2 separate regions of the Homo sapiens genome follow, and region 1 is linked to region 2. A link means that fine-mapping ties the variant in region 2 to the expression of a gene that starts in the linked region. Tissue or cell type: whole blood. Region 2 holds a variant in brackets; the other region holds the start of a gene. All regions are shown on one strand. Distances are from middle to middle.

Region 1 (8,113 bases), 250 kb before region 2:
TGTACTACTGCTTTGTTCATCCAGTGAGGCTCCCAAAGGTGTACTGAAACCATATAAACGTATAAGCCTTAGTCTTGTGAAAGGCTATTTGGAAAGTTGTCATTACACAGCCTTACTTAAAGAGTTACAGCTCAATAAGCTTCTAATCACAGTTAAACTCTCCTCCAAAAACACACAAGGAATGCAAGTAGATTACATAAGTAATATTCACTAACTAAGCAAATACCTGCCATCAGGTCAGTTCAGCAGGAATGATTTAATCATGTCTGATGTGCTAACAATTAGGGGCAAAAATGGCAATGACAAATGATTTGAATTGGCATTTTTCTTTGCAAAAAAGAGAGAATGACTGACAATAAGCATTAAGAAAATGTCTGTTCTTCTCAACCCCTTCCATCAAAAAAGAAAACAGAATTAGAAGAAAACAAATCTTCAGTCATAGGTAACTTAACCTTAATAAAATTAAAAAGTGAAGAGTAGTTGGAAATGAGGCCCAATAGTTTCCTTAAACCTCATCTGTTAATCTATCACTAGCATTTCAGAGCATCACCTAATGCCTCCCCCTTGCCCCAACAACTATCTTTTTATGTAAATGTAGAAGCTTGAGATTCGCTTTGTTTTTAAGCTAAAAAATATATATATTCTTCATTTAACTTTGAAAATTACTAAAAAGTTGACTTGAGAATCAACATTAAGATTAGCCATTGCTAAAATTTTTTCATTCTTGTAGTTCAAATACAGATGAGAGAAATATCTTTTTTTCAAATACAAAAATAAACACTTTTAATTCTCTGAAACCAAGTTATAGTAAGAAACACATTGTTTTATATTGGAGGGTCTGTTTTGTGATGCACACCTTTCTTCAGTAACAATTTATAGCTGTTAAAAATTCACGAGACATGGGATCAATCATGAAAATATCAGTTTCAAGGAAATGTTACTGAAATGCCAATTAAAGGTTAAAACTTTCTACAAGTATACTAACAATGGCAGCTCTTTAAAACTTAGTGCTTTTGAAACGTAAAAGAATCACAAGCAATTACCATAAATATATTAATAAAAGCTTTAATCTATTTTTTGCATATATTTTAATAAAATTCTAATGTATGTCTTTAAAAAGTCATCCTTCCCTGATGGCTACTTTCTTGGATGTAAACATTGTATTACTCTGTCCACAGATGTCTCTACTGGTCTATGCACTAACAGAAAATGGTAGATAAGCAGAGTAACAGGAATCCTCCTTCGAAAACAAATATCTTACTTTTATAGTTGCTCCCTTCCAAATTCTATCAAAATCTCTACCATTTCTTAAATGTTAATTCAAGCAGTTTTTACTTAGTCCCCCCACAAATGGTTATCAAAATAAAGACTCCCTTTAAGGAAAGAAAACACGGTATCTTTATTCAGGATATGGACGGCACTAAGAAACAAAGACTATTTGAGAACTTATCAAGTGGGTAAAATGCTGTCTTCAGGTCATTTGTACATAATAAACAAAATACATAGATGCCCAACTCTGAGAAGGAACTTGAGTTGTTATTTAAAACAAAAATACAGATGCAACATATCCTAAGTCGAATCTGTGATAATATAGCCAAGATTAAAAGACTACTTGTTCTAGCTTTCCTGGATACAAATGAATGCCACTCTTGTGTAGAATAGGTGCAACTGTAGGAACAAGAAGGTAATCCATGAGAGAAGGAGCAGCAGACTACAGAATCTGCCCACATAAATCAGTATTGGCAACAAAACTTCTGAAATTGTCAGGGATTGACTGTGCCCTGGTGAATGTCAACATTTGCCTACTGCATTTGTCTCAAAAAAGATGCACTTATTTACTGTCTAATTGATAGGATCTCTTATACAATCTTAAATCCTATATGTCATTAAACTATAGTGTGATTCTTCTCTTGTTCTTAATTTTTAAAATTCTTTTGAATATGCACTTGAATTTAAACAATAAAACATTATAAATGTATTTGTAATGCTAAGCCTATTTTAAGAAACCTAAAGTAAGCCAATACTGTACTTAGGACTGTATTTAAATAAAGAGTCAGATTGGAGGCTTTAAAGGACTTAAGTAAAAGTTACAAAACAACTTCTCAAACACATTTCTAAGTGGAAACCTGAAAGATACTAGTTTTATCAGATCTCACCCAAAAGGTCTTGAACATGTACATTCAAAATTTCAAGCTTTTACATTATAGACTATTTTAGTATTTAACAATTAAATGAACCAATAGCACATTAATACAATTTCTTGATCCATACTTTGAGTGAAGTATCTAATATCTAAGGCTTATCTGAAAACTGGGAGATTGATTTACAGCTAGATTGTAAATCTGGGGTCCAAGGACTTCAAGCAGTGTATTTGCCTCTGTGCATCTTTAAACAGAAGTTATTCCATATATGTCATCATATTTCAGAAGGGTCTATGACACTTCCAATAAAGGGTACGAGTTCTGTAATAAAGAGTGTTCAATAAGGTTCCAGTCGATTCATCAAAACAAGGCATTAATATCATGGTAGCCAATATCTTGTCTGTCTTTAGAGGAGGCAAACTGGCATATGAATCACTTTCCACAACAAAACAAAACAAACTACCCTAACTCTAATATTTGAACAAAATATTAAGAAAATCTAAATTGAGAAAGCAAAAATATGCTCGAAAGCAAACACCAACAAAAGTTTAAAGGCTACATTCCTGATTTTACAACTAGCAAAGTGGAATAAGAAACAAGTACATTTTGCTGTAGTCAGATTTACGTGCAACATGATTCATCTCCTCTGTATTTTATCAAACATTTTTGTACCAGTTGCCAAAGCATGTAATTAAACAGATTTATGCAGTCTGAATGCTTTTAAAAGTTCTATTCCCTGAGAATTCCAGTGCCATCTGACAATTCCATGTTCAAGAAGTAAACTATAAGTACAAAGTTAGCTAGTTTTAATAGCTCCCCAAACAGAAACAAAATTAAAGCCCATTTAGTGTAGTTAGGTAAATTAAACTCGTCTAAAACACATTTGAAAGGAAAATGATTCCGTGCCAGTTGTACAGATGCCAAAACTAAAGCAAAACAAAATATCCTGTTCGAGATGTGAGAATTCTTTCAAATAAAAACAGAACAAATATGGCATGATTATCTGTTCTGGATTTCTGATCTCTGATGCTAACACGATGCGTGAGTAGCTCAAGTCCTAACTGTAAAGTCAACACGGTCACCAAATAATCAGCGGTCACAGCACTTCCATTTCTAATCGCTTAGAGGAGGAAGCTATCCGCCGGCTCACTTTCCGGTTTGTAGCTTACAACGGTCGCGGGACCCACAGGGACGCGGCCCGAGTGGCTCTGCTCCGGCGTCCCGTCCGCACGGATCTCCCCCGGGACGCGGGCGGACCAGGGAGCACTCACCGGCAGTCCTTGAGCCATATCGCGATCTTCTCGTTGGGCACGTTTCCTGGGGGTAGAGAGAGGGGACAGCACGTTACCACCCAGGAGCACTACGACGGCGGAGTCACCCTGGACCCTCCCAAGTAGGAAAATCTACCACGGCAAATGCAGCCTAAGCGACACGTCTCAGTGTCCCTTGGCAGGGAAATCGGATGGCACCCAGTTGTCTGTGTTGACGCTGGGGGCGCCTCGTTCAGCGCGCGCGTTTGAAGGTCGGAAGTGTCCCCTCTCCCCTCGGCCTACCGTGCCCGAGGCTCTCCCAGAACTCGTGGCAGGCGCCCAGGGCGCACGAGACTCTCCCCAGCCCACCAGCCTCCCCCCGGAGCCCGGCCGGGAGCACCGACCTCTTCCCCCCGCTGCCGGCAGCTGCGCGCCGGGGAGGTCCTCCTCCTCGTCCTCCTCCTCGTCCTGCGTCGTCGCTTCTGTGGACAGATCCTCCGTCTCCGACGCTTGCCAGGAGCTGCGGCACTTGGCCCAGGCCTTCCTCCTGCGACTCGCCACTTGCCACTCCAGTTCCTCCTCCGCCTCCGCCGACGACGACAGGGGCCGGTCCATGGCCGCACTGGGGGCTCCGCTACCCCAGCCGGACCCTGCGCGAGACAAGGCGGCGGCAGGGACCCCCGCCCTTGCTGTCAGCGCCCGGCCGGGCAGGGGGCCCCGGGGAGCTGAAGCGGGCGCCGGAGGAGGAGGAGGAGGAGGAGGGGACAGGGAGGGAGGGAGGGAAGGAAGGGGAGGGAAGGGGCGGAGGGCCGGCGCTTCACATGAAGGCGGCCGGGCGCGCGCGGGAGCGCTAGTGGCCCGAGGGAGCGCGGCTGGGAGCCGAGCGCCCGCCCGGCCCCTGCTCCCCACCCCCTGCCTGACGCGCCCGGAGCAGGCCGGCCGCTGCGCGTCTGCGCGCCTTCCCTCGGCGGCGGCCCACGCCCCCTTCCGGCCGGGGCCGCGCGGGGCGCGGTAGGGCGGGGCGCGCCCGGCGCGACGCGGAGCAGGCCAGCCCCCGACTACTGCCCGCGGAATGGGCAAGATTAGTTTGTTAATAATCTTTCCTCCTCTCCTCCTCCTCCTCCCTCACCTAAAAATAGAACGTAAGTGGGGAGGCCAAGTCTCACAAAACATCCCCCGCGAGAAAACAAGTGTCTGCTTGGGCACCCTGAAACATACACTTGAAAGAGTCGCCTGAATATAGACTCTTTAGTGTCCAAGGAATTGGGGTAAGGACGGAAAGAGGTGCTTGATTGGTGTTGCCAAAATGTAAAAACTGCAAAAGACTAAGCTTCCTGGAGTGCTACTTTCATACTTAAAGTTATTTATCGTGTTTATGTTATGAATGAAAATGAATTGTGAAAGGATATTTAATCTGGAAATTTCACATTGAAGTTGGACTTTGGTGAGGGAGAATAGAGGAAACAATTGGGACAATGTGGAGATAGTTGCTTGGATTTTGGTGAGACAGCATGATACAAGAAACAAATGATGTCAGGGTTCAAAACTTTTTAAAGCCAGCTTTGGCATTCCGTTTTGTTATGTTTAAATTCTCATTAGCAAAAATACTCAAATTCTATCCAAAACCAGACACAATGTGACAGACCTATCAAGCAGCATTGTTCCCCTAAATGTTACATCTGAACTATACATATAAGTAAGGCTTCCAATATTTTATTGTACTTGGCTATGCTCTGAAGAACAAGTTAGAACACTTTTTAAAATCTTAACGTGATTGAAAAGAATATTTTGCGTAGACAAAATATTTTAAGGAAGGAATTATTTTTCATTTGAAATTAAAATCCAGAGCATAGTAAAATTCCTAATGGAAGCATTCGAATTACAAGGTAATTAAGTGCATTGTCATTGATAGCTACAGGAAACCATAACTTTTGGAGAATTTGGAATGAAGAATGCTCTGGAGATGAAATAGTGCCTAGTTTTTGTCCAGGCATTTACACATAAGTCATAGACTACTAAAATAGCACACTGATTTTCCTGCCTTCATTCTTTCCTATCTCCTTTCTAGCGCATTGCTCTAGATTTACAATTCCAAGACATCTTCTAATGGTTTACTAATATCCCCAAGATCAAATCCAAAATCCAGACTAGCTTTCCAGAACCATCATAATATTCTCCTGAGTCTCATCTATGTACTGCCAAATGTCAGGGGAGTTAGAACAGTGATATTAATATCTCTATGGCTTGAAATTTCACTACTAGAAAATCTTTTCTTTGAACCTATAAGACTTTCTCAGCCTTCAAGGGTCCTGTAGTAGGATGCAGCTAACAGTTTAATGGCTCTCCAAAATAGGTCAGAGTCTCGCTGCCTGTGTGGAAGATGAAAAAGAGAATGAATAAAGAAGGTACCTAAGAAGAAGCATTGAAAGGGCTGGTCAAGTGCCACAAAATATGCTGCCTTCAAAGTTTTATCCAGGGTTCTTACGTATCCACCCTGTTCCTCTGCTGCTCCCAGCTTCAATTCTATCATATCTAAGTGCTGTTGCCTACTCTGTCTTTGCTAATTAATTCATTCCTGTTCTTTCTGTCCACTACCTTCATGACTTTCAAAATCTAGCTAAGCCAGAACTTTTTGACTCCACCATTCCACCACTCCTGATCACACCCCTCCCACAGGGATCTGATATACAACAGCATGTCTATGTCATTTATTTGGGGACTGGATTGTAGAGTAAATAATATGACTGGCCCTGGAAGGTATGTTTGGCTTACTAGCCAGATTGTAAATTGTGAGAGATGATAGAACATTCTTCAGTATTCTTGCACCCCTTACACTTTTAAATGCTGATCCCACAAGGGATAATGGGTCTTCTTGAGGTAGTTTCTGTTTTCTGTGTTCTTCAAAGAGACACCTAAATTGATTATTTTAAAATTTGCTTCATGTTATTTCTATAATGCTTATATTTTATTTAGGTTTGCAGTTGTTTAAATACACTTTCAGATGACAACAACAAAGAATTCTTGTGAAAGGCAATAATTAACCATAGTTTAAAAAAAAATCAAACAACCAGAGTCAAGTAATAAGGGGGAAAAATTACCAGCAGGTAACAAAGTAGAATATATACATTATTCAGTTTCCGGTAGCACAAATGTGTGCTTTCTTCTACATGGCATTTTTTAATGAAATATGTTGAGGGTATAGAAGTAATAGAGAAGGAAATCCTTGAAGTAGTATGCTATTGCCTTGAAAAGTAAGGTTTTTTCATTGTATTCTCAACTTTTACAGATGTTTTAAAATGCCCAAGGTATTTCATTTATTCGATAATGAATACTACACATGAAGAAAGTCTGCATGTTTGCTTCTTCGAGGATTTTCTCCCAAACAAGTACTATCTTGTACACCAACTGCAAATATACATTGCGAAGCTCTACATAAAGAGTATTGTCTGGGCCAGGCATGGTGGCTCACACCTGTAATCCCAGCACTTTGGGAGGCTGAGGCGGGGCAGATCACCTGAGGTCAGGAGTTTGAGACCAGCCTGACCAACATGGAGAAACCCTGTCTCTACTAAAAATACAAAATTAGCCATGCATGGTGGCGAATGCCTGTAATTCCACCAACTTGGGAGGCTAAGGCAGGAGAATAGCTTGAACCCAGGAGGCAGAGGTTGCGGTGAGCTGAGATTGTGCCATTGCACTCCAGCCTGGGCAAAAAGAGTGAAACGCTGTCTCAAAAAAAAAAAAAAAAAAGAGTATTGTCTGAATCAATGATGTTTGCAAGGTGGAAAAAGAAAGAAATGTATATTAAATGTGGATAATTCCATCCAGCATGACATAGTGGAAGCAACGTGGTCTTTGGTGTTAGACTGAAGTTTGAAATGTTTCCCTCTTTTTCTAGCTGTATGGTATAAGGCAAGACAGCTAATATCCCAAGGCCATGACTTTTCTCATCTTTGAAATAGCAATCATGATAACTACCTTCCCAAATTGATGTGAATCTCACAAGAAATAATGTAGGTGCTCAGTATAGCTATTAGAATGATTATATTGCAGAAAGCAAAAAATAAATCAATTTCATATGGGGGAATAATTCTCATATTAGCAAATGGCATCTATCATCATGCTTATGCAGCTGTATTTTAAAATTGGCATAAGTTCAGGCAAAGATAGAAAACGTATACTTTGGTTAAATCAGGCAGTTTTATATGGGAAAGCATGAATCATAAGGGAAACATTGTTCTTGGTTTAATTAGATATTTAAAATTGCAAAACAAGATTTACTATTGGGTAGGCTAAGCCATTTTGGTTGTAGTTATGGTATTGTTTCTTTAATAATATTTATATGCTCAAAAATTGTATTTTGTGCATCAAAATCTTAATTATTTAGAATCTGATTAGAGAGTGGTAGAGTTGCAGTTATTTCTTCAAATTCTCATCTTTTGTTAAGACAAAAGGGGCCTCAGAGGTATAAGGTTAAGTAGAATATCAGGTTAAATGAACAAAGTAGCATTTTATATTTTGATAGTATTGCCTGGAGAAAAAAATTCTATATAAAATAAGAATGGAAAACACTGCATATTATACCCCCTCCTCTTCCTCCACCCCAGCCCAGTCACAATGAATGTTAAAGACTTGAGACGTCTTCAAAACTTGTTTTTTAAAACTTTAATTTTTTAAACCCAATAGTTATAAAATTTATTTCAACAGTAAATCTTTTTGGCC
Region 2 (8,113 bases):
TTTACAGCTGTAGCACTCCTGTAAACATTGCTTGTAAGGCTGGTGTAGGAGTGAATTCCCTCAGCTTTTGTTTGTCTGGGAAGGCCTTTATTCTCCTCCAGGATAGTTTTGCTGGATATAGTATCTTTTGTCCTTGGCCGAGACTCGTTTTTTTTTGTTCTTTTAGCATCTTGAATAAATTATCCCTTTCTCTCCTGGCATACATCAGTAATTTAATGTTACTGATGAGAAATCTACTGATAGTCTAATTAGGATTCCCTTACATGTAACTTGATGCTTTTCTCTTGCAGATTTTAGAATTCTCTGTCTTCAACTTTTGACAGTTTGACTATAATGTGCCACAGAGAGAATCTTTTTGGGTTTAATCTAATTGGGAATCTTTGTGGTTCCTTCATCTGGATGTCTATATCTCCCCCAATATTTGGGAAGTTTTTAGCTATTATTTCATTAAATAGGTTTTCTGTGCCTTTCTTCAACTTTTCTCCATCTGCCAGTTCTATAATGCAAAAATTTCTTTGCTTAGTTTTTTTTAAACTTTGGGTTATTTCACAAAACCTATTTTCAGATTTTGAAATTCTTTCTTCTGCTTGATCTGGTCTATTCTTGAAGCTCTCGATTGTGTCTTTTATTCACTGCATTCTTCAGATTTCTGTGTTTTAAATGATAGATCTTGTTTTAATTTCTCATTTTATAACTTTCCTGATTTCATTGGGTTGTTTGTATTCTCTTGTAGCCTGCTGAATTTTTTTAAGATCATTATTTTTAATTTTGTTTCAGGCATTTTATAAACACCCTTTTCTTTGGGGTCTGTTACTAGAGACTCACTGTGTTCCTTTGGCAGTGTCGTGTGTCCTTGCTTTTTCATGTTTCTTGTGACATCTGCACATCTAGTGGAATAGTCACATTTTCCAGTTGTATGCAGTAGCTTTCACAGGGAGAGACTTTTCCTGTAGATGGGTCCTAGAGTGTTGGTTGGGTATGGTACATTGGCTTTGGTTTGGGGTGGATTCAGTACCATGGTCTCTGTGTAGTTTCGTCAGCTGTAATCTTCACAGCAATGTCTGATTTCCTCAGTGGCCTAGGCTGCAGGAGTTTTTGATGGTGGTATAGTTTTGCTAGGGACAGGCATGTCATGCTAGTTGTCAGGCTGGACACTTGCAGGCTCGGAGGGCTGACAAGCTGTCTTTTGGGCTCCCCAGGGAAGAGAAAGTATGATTTTCCAGCTTTTCTTCTATGTTTATTTAAAACTTTGTTGTCTGGCTCACAGTGTTCTTTATCTAAAGTCTAGCCAGTGGTGGTGGTCATATTGCAATCATTATTACAGCTTCAGACTTTCTAGACCTTTTCCATTTTAGTGACCTTCAGCCTTCATTCGCTTCCATTCATGACCACAGAATAGATGTAGTCATCTCTATTGAAGGCAAACCCATCCCATCTCTTCAGCTTCATCTAGAAATTTGTTTCATCTGTTACACTTTCTTTCTTTGGTTTTTAGCCTTCATTCTCTACCAGCTCTTTCACTTAAGCAGAGATATGTTCAAGACTCTCCCATTCTAACAGTTCCCTGCCTTGATCCTACAAGCTTTTCTCTTTAGCTGCTACCTTGCTTTTTATTTTTATTTTTTTCTCACTTGCTCTGATAATCTCCTAGAAAAATTGGCTTACTCTGACCATCTCCATTAGTTCACCTCTTAATTATTCTTCAACCATCTGAGACCTGGCTTTGTTCTTTCTCTACTGAAACTCTTCAGGCAGAGATTAGCAGAAGTCTTCTAATTGCTCAATGAAGTGGAAATTTTCAGTCCTTATTTTCTGTATTTCTCCTTCATTTGACTTTGACTTAACTCTCTTGGTTTTTGTAATACCACCAGCACCTAGTTTATCAGTCTCTCATGGGAACTTCATTCTATCTGCCTGCCAAATGGTGGAGTCCCAAGGACTGTGGTCTGATCTGCTGTTCCTCATTACATGCTTTCTGGTCAGTATTGCACACTGTGGTTCTCATCTACCATCATCTACCTCCAGAAGTGCCATATATTTAGTAAGTTTACAAGAAAAGCAACTTTCCTTGCTCCGTAGACTAACTCTGATCTTTTGTTCCCTATCATGGTTATGGAACTCACTAATTATTCAGCATCAGCTGTCAGAATGTTTAACTTTGCTATTTAGGTTTGTGTAAGTTATGGGACAATAACTAGGATAACTAGAATTAGCTTGTAGCTTATGTGGGTTAGATAATACAATTGCATATGTAAGTAGTGAATATTTTGGCTTAATAAGTGAAGGAGTATTTAGGAAGCTATCTGGAATGTTATCTAAGTCAGGATTCTGAAGGTAACTCTAGCCTCACTGTCCCTTACTCACTATTTCTAAACACCCACCAATCCTGCCTACTTTATTTACTTGGTATTTCTCCAATCTGCCATCCTTCTCTGTCCGACCAATCACTACCCTAGCTCAGGCCTTCAAAGTCTCTCACTTGACCTACTCCTTCACCTCCTTTGAACCTGTGCACAAATGTTAGCTTCTTAGTAAGGCTTTCTCTGGTCACCTGTATAAAATTCCCATCTGCTACATACTTCCTGGTTCCCTGTATTGCCTTATATTCCTCAGTGGCATTTATCTCCTTGTATACTATATAATTTCTGATCTCTGTCCTTTCTATTACCACCCCACTTCAAGATGGCAAGGATTTGTCTGTTATATTAGTGACTGTCCTAATAGGAAAAAAAATGGCACATTTATATTAGAGTAACTTGAGAAGAATTTTTAAAAGTCAGTATTTATAAAGCTGTAGATATAGAGATAGTGAAGTACTCTTGGGACTAGTAATCATTGGGCAGGTGATACCATTTTTAAGCCCAAAAGGGCATAGTGAAAGAGCAGGTGCCTGAACCTGGATTCAGAGAGACTATGTAGAGGAGGCCACTAGGCAGGAGCTGTGGCCTTTGCCTCAGCTTGGCTGATTACCTCACTAATCCTCACTAATCCTAAATTACCCAAGTTCCTTCTTTTCTGGCCCATTTCACAGTCCAAAGCCAACTTTAAGCCAGAGGGCAAGGGGAGCACTTGATGCAGTCCATGCAGTATGGCCTCCCAGTGAACAGGGCAGGTGGAGGATAGAAACTAAATCTAGATGGAGGAGAGGGAAGATATTCAGAATATGTTTTTTCTTTACTGTCAGCACCTTGAAGAGTGCCTGGCATATAGATAATATTTATTGAATGAATGAATTTGTTACTGGTTTACTGGCCTCATGAACTTTAGTTTTGCCTATTCTATTATAACTTGGTGACTACATTCCTATATACTTGATACCAACTCCTCATTAACTACAAAGGCAGTATTCCCCTCTCCCCCTTTTTAAACATCAAAACTCTTTTTTAAAAAAAATTCTTAAATGAATCGCCAGTATATAACACATAAAAGTATGGGTGCCTTGATTGGAGTGGTGGGTAAATGATCCTGAGTCTGTCTGTTTGGGTTCCCTCTTTGCCTAGCAGGAATGTGACTGTCTTGTTTAAAGCCCACTGAAGTAGAAAACAGGATGAGAGACACACTCTTCAACATGGCATAAGATTTCCATGCTTGGCTCCTGCCTATCTCTGCATCCTCATTTCTCAGTAGTTTCCTCATATTTTACCATCCTGTAATTGAAAGAATTACAAAACTAGTTCTCTACACAAGCTTTCTTGCTGTTCCAGCTGCTGGGAATTAGCTTCCTTTGTGCTTTTTTTTATTTGAATGATTCATGTTTACATTCATTAAAATTAATGAAGATTCATTACAGTTGTTTTCTCTTTAGGCATAATTGGATCTCCTATACTGAGACATTGAATGCAACTTTGATTGTTTTTTTCCCCCATTATATGTTAAGCTCCTTGAGGTTCTTTTCAACTTTGCGTTATTCCAGGATTTCTATCGTAAGAGTTAAGGTTCATCCACTTCTCTGATGTGAGGTTCATGGCAGGAAGGTTCC[A/C]TGTTGCTCAGCTGCAGAGTAGAAAATACTGAGCAGGGCTTAAATAGATTAGGATGCTGCCATTATAATATAAACTGTGTTTACGAAAGAGCATCATCAATTCAGAAAATATCTTTTTCATTGACTACAGTGGTGCCTGATGATCTTTCTATTACAATCTTAAATTATGGTCATTTTAATTATAGAATCATACATGGGTTTATTTATGTTAAAATAAGGTAATTATCAAGCTAGCTGTGACCTATGAGAAAAATCCTGAAGAAATGATGAAGGGATCAGGTGACTGTTTTTGAAGTCAAGTGTGAAAGGTCAGACCACTCTGGGTCATGGGACCCTGCCAAGGCAGAGCAGGTCAAGTGCTGTGCCCAGTGGGGCCAACCCCCAGTATGGTGCCAGGGACTGGGTGTGAGAAGTCAAAAATTAAGAATACACCTCAGAAAGGGGACATGGACAGATGCCACAGACTTATTTGCGTATTTCATGATTTAGCCCTTAGCTTGTGCTGATACTGGATCAGATATTTTCAGAGTTCAGTATTTTCAAAAGCATCGCTGATCACCTGTTGGCATTGTTTTACATCTCAACCAAGGAAAAACTTTTGGGACATCTGTTTAACAAGGGGTAAGCTTTTATTTGAAATGTTCGATTAAAGCAGAAGAGTCAGGCATTTTTTTGTGCCTCCCCAAAGAAAGATTTGTTTACTGTCCTGTGTGAATAAATATAATGTCATTATTTCCCGTAAAGGAAAAGCTGATGGGGAGAGTAAGTAATGGGTAAGATTAGGCAATGTTAAGCTCATATATTAGTATGTTTAAGAGTGATCAATTTAGGGATCTCTGTGACAGAGATGCCAAATGCTCACAGTGCTATCTCATGTTGGAAACATGTGTCTCCTCCACTTTTCCTCAGTCCTCTGAAATGACGGCCCTTTAGGGATTGACAGATACTATACAGATTTCTGTGCTGATATGTGATTTGTCTAAAACAAAAGTTTCACAAAACAATTCTTACCATTGCCATTTAAGAGTCACTCTGATATGCTCTGTTTCCATTGCAAACAAATGCTCATTATGATTTGTGAAATTAACTTCACAATTTCCTAATGGATAACACCTTGAAGTATGAAAAGCACTACAGGATCTTTTATAGCTTCCCTCCTCCAGCTCTCTATAATCTGCTCCCATCTGTGGTGTAGGAAAGATTTCAGCAGTGGCCGCTGAAGGCCCTAAGATCTTGTCTCAACAGATAGCAAGGTGCATAACAGACTTTGGACAGGTTGTTTAACATGTCTGAGTTACTGTTTATTCACTGGCAAAATGAAGGGCTTATATTATATTGTCTCTAAGTACTATCAGTTCTGACCACCTATGAACTTTCATTTTAAAGAAAATACCTATTTCTATGGCCTTTAGGCATTAGGGAATTTTGTCAAATTAAATAAATCTCAGTAAGGTTTGATGGTCAATGGGGCCCACTGTCTGGTGTGTGTGGAGGGGTGTTGTATTTTACATCAGGAACTTCAGAGCCCTCATGAATTTCTAATTAGAGGAACCACCTGGGAAATATAAGTCAAAGCCCTTTGCTCGCCTTACTCAGCTTTAGGGCACAGTGACTAGAGGTGGGCAATCGCTTTGGTGTAGGTATTGTCATTGGAAAGGAAGAAACCATTTTCTGGAGGAAAAGAATTGGTTGAGGCTAGCTTTAAGCAGCTATTTCATGATGGACAAAAGGACTAGCTCATCCATTCTTCATTCGTTTCTCTGTATCCTCTATCAAATTTCTGAGTAAAGATTTTATACAATGCTTGATTAGCATTCAAATAGTATGTTTCAAAGATTTTAAAAAAAATAAAACTAGGCCTTTGAATCATAATTATGGCTTATAACTCTATTTTTCATATACTTACTATCTCAAGTTACAAATTTCATGTTATGTTTTTTTCAAAAGAGTATTCCTGCCACAACTCAGAGCTCAGCTGAATTAGAGCAGTGACTAGAAAATCTGAGAAGGCTGAGCTTCAAAATAAGGTCTGGAAAGTGTTTCTTATTGTTACAAGAGAGTCAAAATGATTTTCTTGAGCTTTAAGTTTATGTAAGTATTTACTTGACACTTAGCAGTTTAAAAGATAATGTGCAAAAATATGAAAATGAGAAAAAACAATTTCAAAACAAGAGTTGGTGATTACGTGAGACTTAGTAGAGCAAAGTATATTCTAAGTATTAATCTGTCTAAGCTGTTTGGGAACAGATGTACGTGAAATGGATACCGGGTGTTCTGTTGTGTACACCCCAAGTGAGACATCTGTTGGTAGACTGTGTGGTCAGAAATAATGGAAGCAGGGGTTAAACCCCAATATGACCTATTACTCATGTGAATTATTGAAGGACTAATTACTCAGTAAAACATGATGCTTTGATTCATCAGTCTACACGTTAAGAAAAAAGCCTCTTTAGAAAAAAATTTAGTTCTGTTTCTAAGCTGTCAAATTTGAGGAAATTTTTAAGATGTATGCAAAGACTCAAATTTCCATAGTAACTGCAAATACTATCTGCTTATAAAGTTTTAAAATGTTTTGACAGGTCTACTAATTTATCATAAAAATAGCCTCAAAAGTTTTAGCTTTTTGTTAGGGTAGGTTGGGTCTCACAGAAAACAAATGTAGAGTGAATTTTCTAAAGCAGGGCTGTCCAGTTAGACTTCCTGAAATGATGGGAGTGCACTATATCTGAAGTGTTCAATACAGTTACCACCAGCTACATGTGGCTATTGAACAGAAACATGGCTAGTGTGACTGAGAAACTGAATTTTTAATTATATTTAATTTTTATTAATTTGAATTCAATAACTGCATGTAGCAAGTGGCAACTGCATTGTACAACACAGCTCTGACACATGGAGAGTTGAAAATGTTTGTTTACTTTCTTCCCAAGTTTTCATTTTAGTCTTTGTTTCTACATAGAAAGGAAGATATAGCTTTTGAAAAATGAACCTGAATGTAGAACTGATATGGTTATGCAATTTGAGCTGCCTATTTAAAGATAAAGCAACTGAGTTTAGAGATTTCAAAGTGGCAGAGTCCTTTAACATATTTCGTGGGCTGGCCACGGTAGCTCATACCTGTAATCCTAGTACTTTGGGAGGCTGAGATGGGAGGATTGCTTGAGCCCAGGAGTTCGAGGCCAGCCTGGGCAACATAGCAAGACCCCATCTCAGGGAAAAAAATATGTGTATATATATGTATATATATATATATATATATATATATATATATATATATATATGCATACACATATATACATATATACACACATATATTAACATATTTTGTGTGTACAAAAAATATTTTTATTATGTGTAGATTAGTTGGTTACTAGTAAAGTTGAAGTCTTGTCTATAGAAATCATTGTATTTTTCATGGTCATTGTGATACATTGTTTGAACTGAAATTTGGCAAATTCAATCTGTTTCTTACTACAAGAATAGTACATAGATTTGAAATGGTAACTCTCTTAGTCTGTGTACTCTGACCCTGTGAACGTCTGGAGACTAATGTTATTCCTAAATATGCTATGTCCACATGGCAGCATCTGAAGGCAAACACTTTTTAAAACTGATCTACTTTTGTGGACCCTTCCTCTCTCTCTTTCCTGCATCCCGGATGGGGCCCTCTGGGGCTGGAACTGGCACAGAACTATTCCCCTAGGAGTGGGTTCATTGAAGCCAAGGGACACACAAATTGAGAATCAGATAGACTGGACCAAGGTCATTAAACCAGAGAGGGCAATCCAGATGGGGTTGTCCAAAGTAGGAAGTTCTGAAGTGAATTGCAGAAATCCAAACATGGCAAAGCTAAAGGAATAGAGAACCAGGGCAATGGATATAGAGAACAGAGCAATTGGGTATGCAGGAAGATGCTATTGCCTAGACTGGATGTTTTTGTACCCTCTGTAATTTGAGAAAATGGACCGTCCTTGTTGAAATGGTCAGGGATGTAGTAGATAAATTCATTGCAGTTGTGTAATCTCAGCACTAGAATACTGATCATAACCATATCACTTGTTATCCCACCTAGCCTGCCACTTGATTGGGTTATTAGATTACATTTCAGACATTGACAAGTCTACAAGCATCATT

The links. PIP is the estimated chance that this variant, and not a neighbour inherited with it, causes the effect.
Region 1: ITPRID2 starts here. The variant in region 2 is fine-mapped to the expression of ITPRID2 in whole blood (TOPMed, PIP 0.90).

The regions. Positions count from the first base shown.
Region 1 is chr2:181,887,960-181,896,072 of GRCh38, reverse strand. ITPRID2 (ITPR interacting domain containing 2) reads right to left here and starts at 4,343. Exons shown (of 18, transcript NM_001130445.3): 1 at 3,796-4,343; 2 at 3,413-3,458; 3 at 1-43. The coding sequence starts at 4,006. RefSeq lists silencers at 3,707-3,846, 4,137-4,466.
Region 2 is chr2:181,640,450-181,648,562 of GRCh38, reverse strand. The region is part of intron 1 of CERKL (CERK like autophagy regulator); the gene reads left to right. Among named protein-coding and RNA genes, the nearest start is that of CERKL, 13 kb to the left of the region's middle. The variant A/C (reference allele first, on the strand shown) is at 3,980.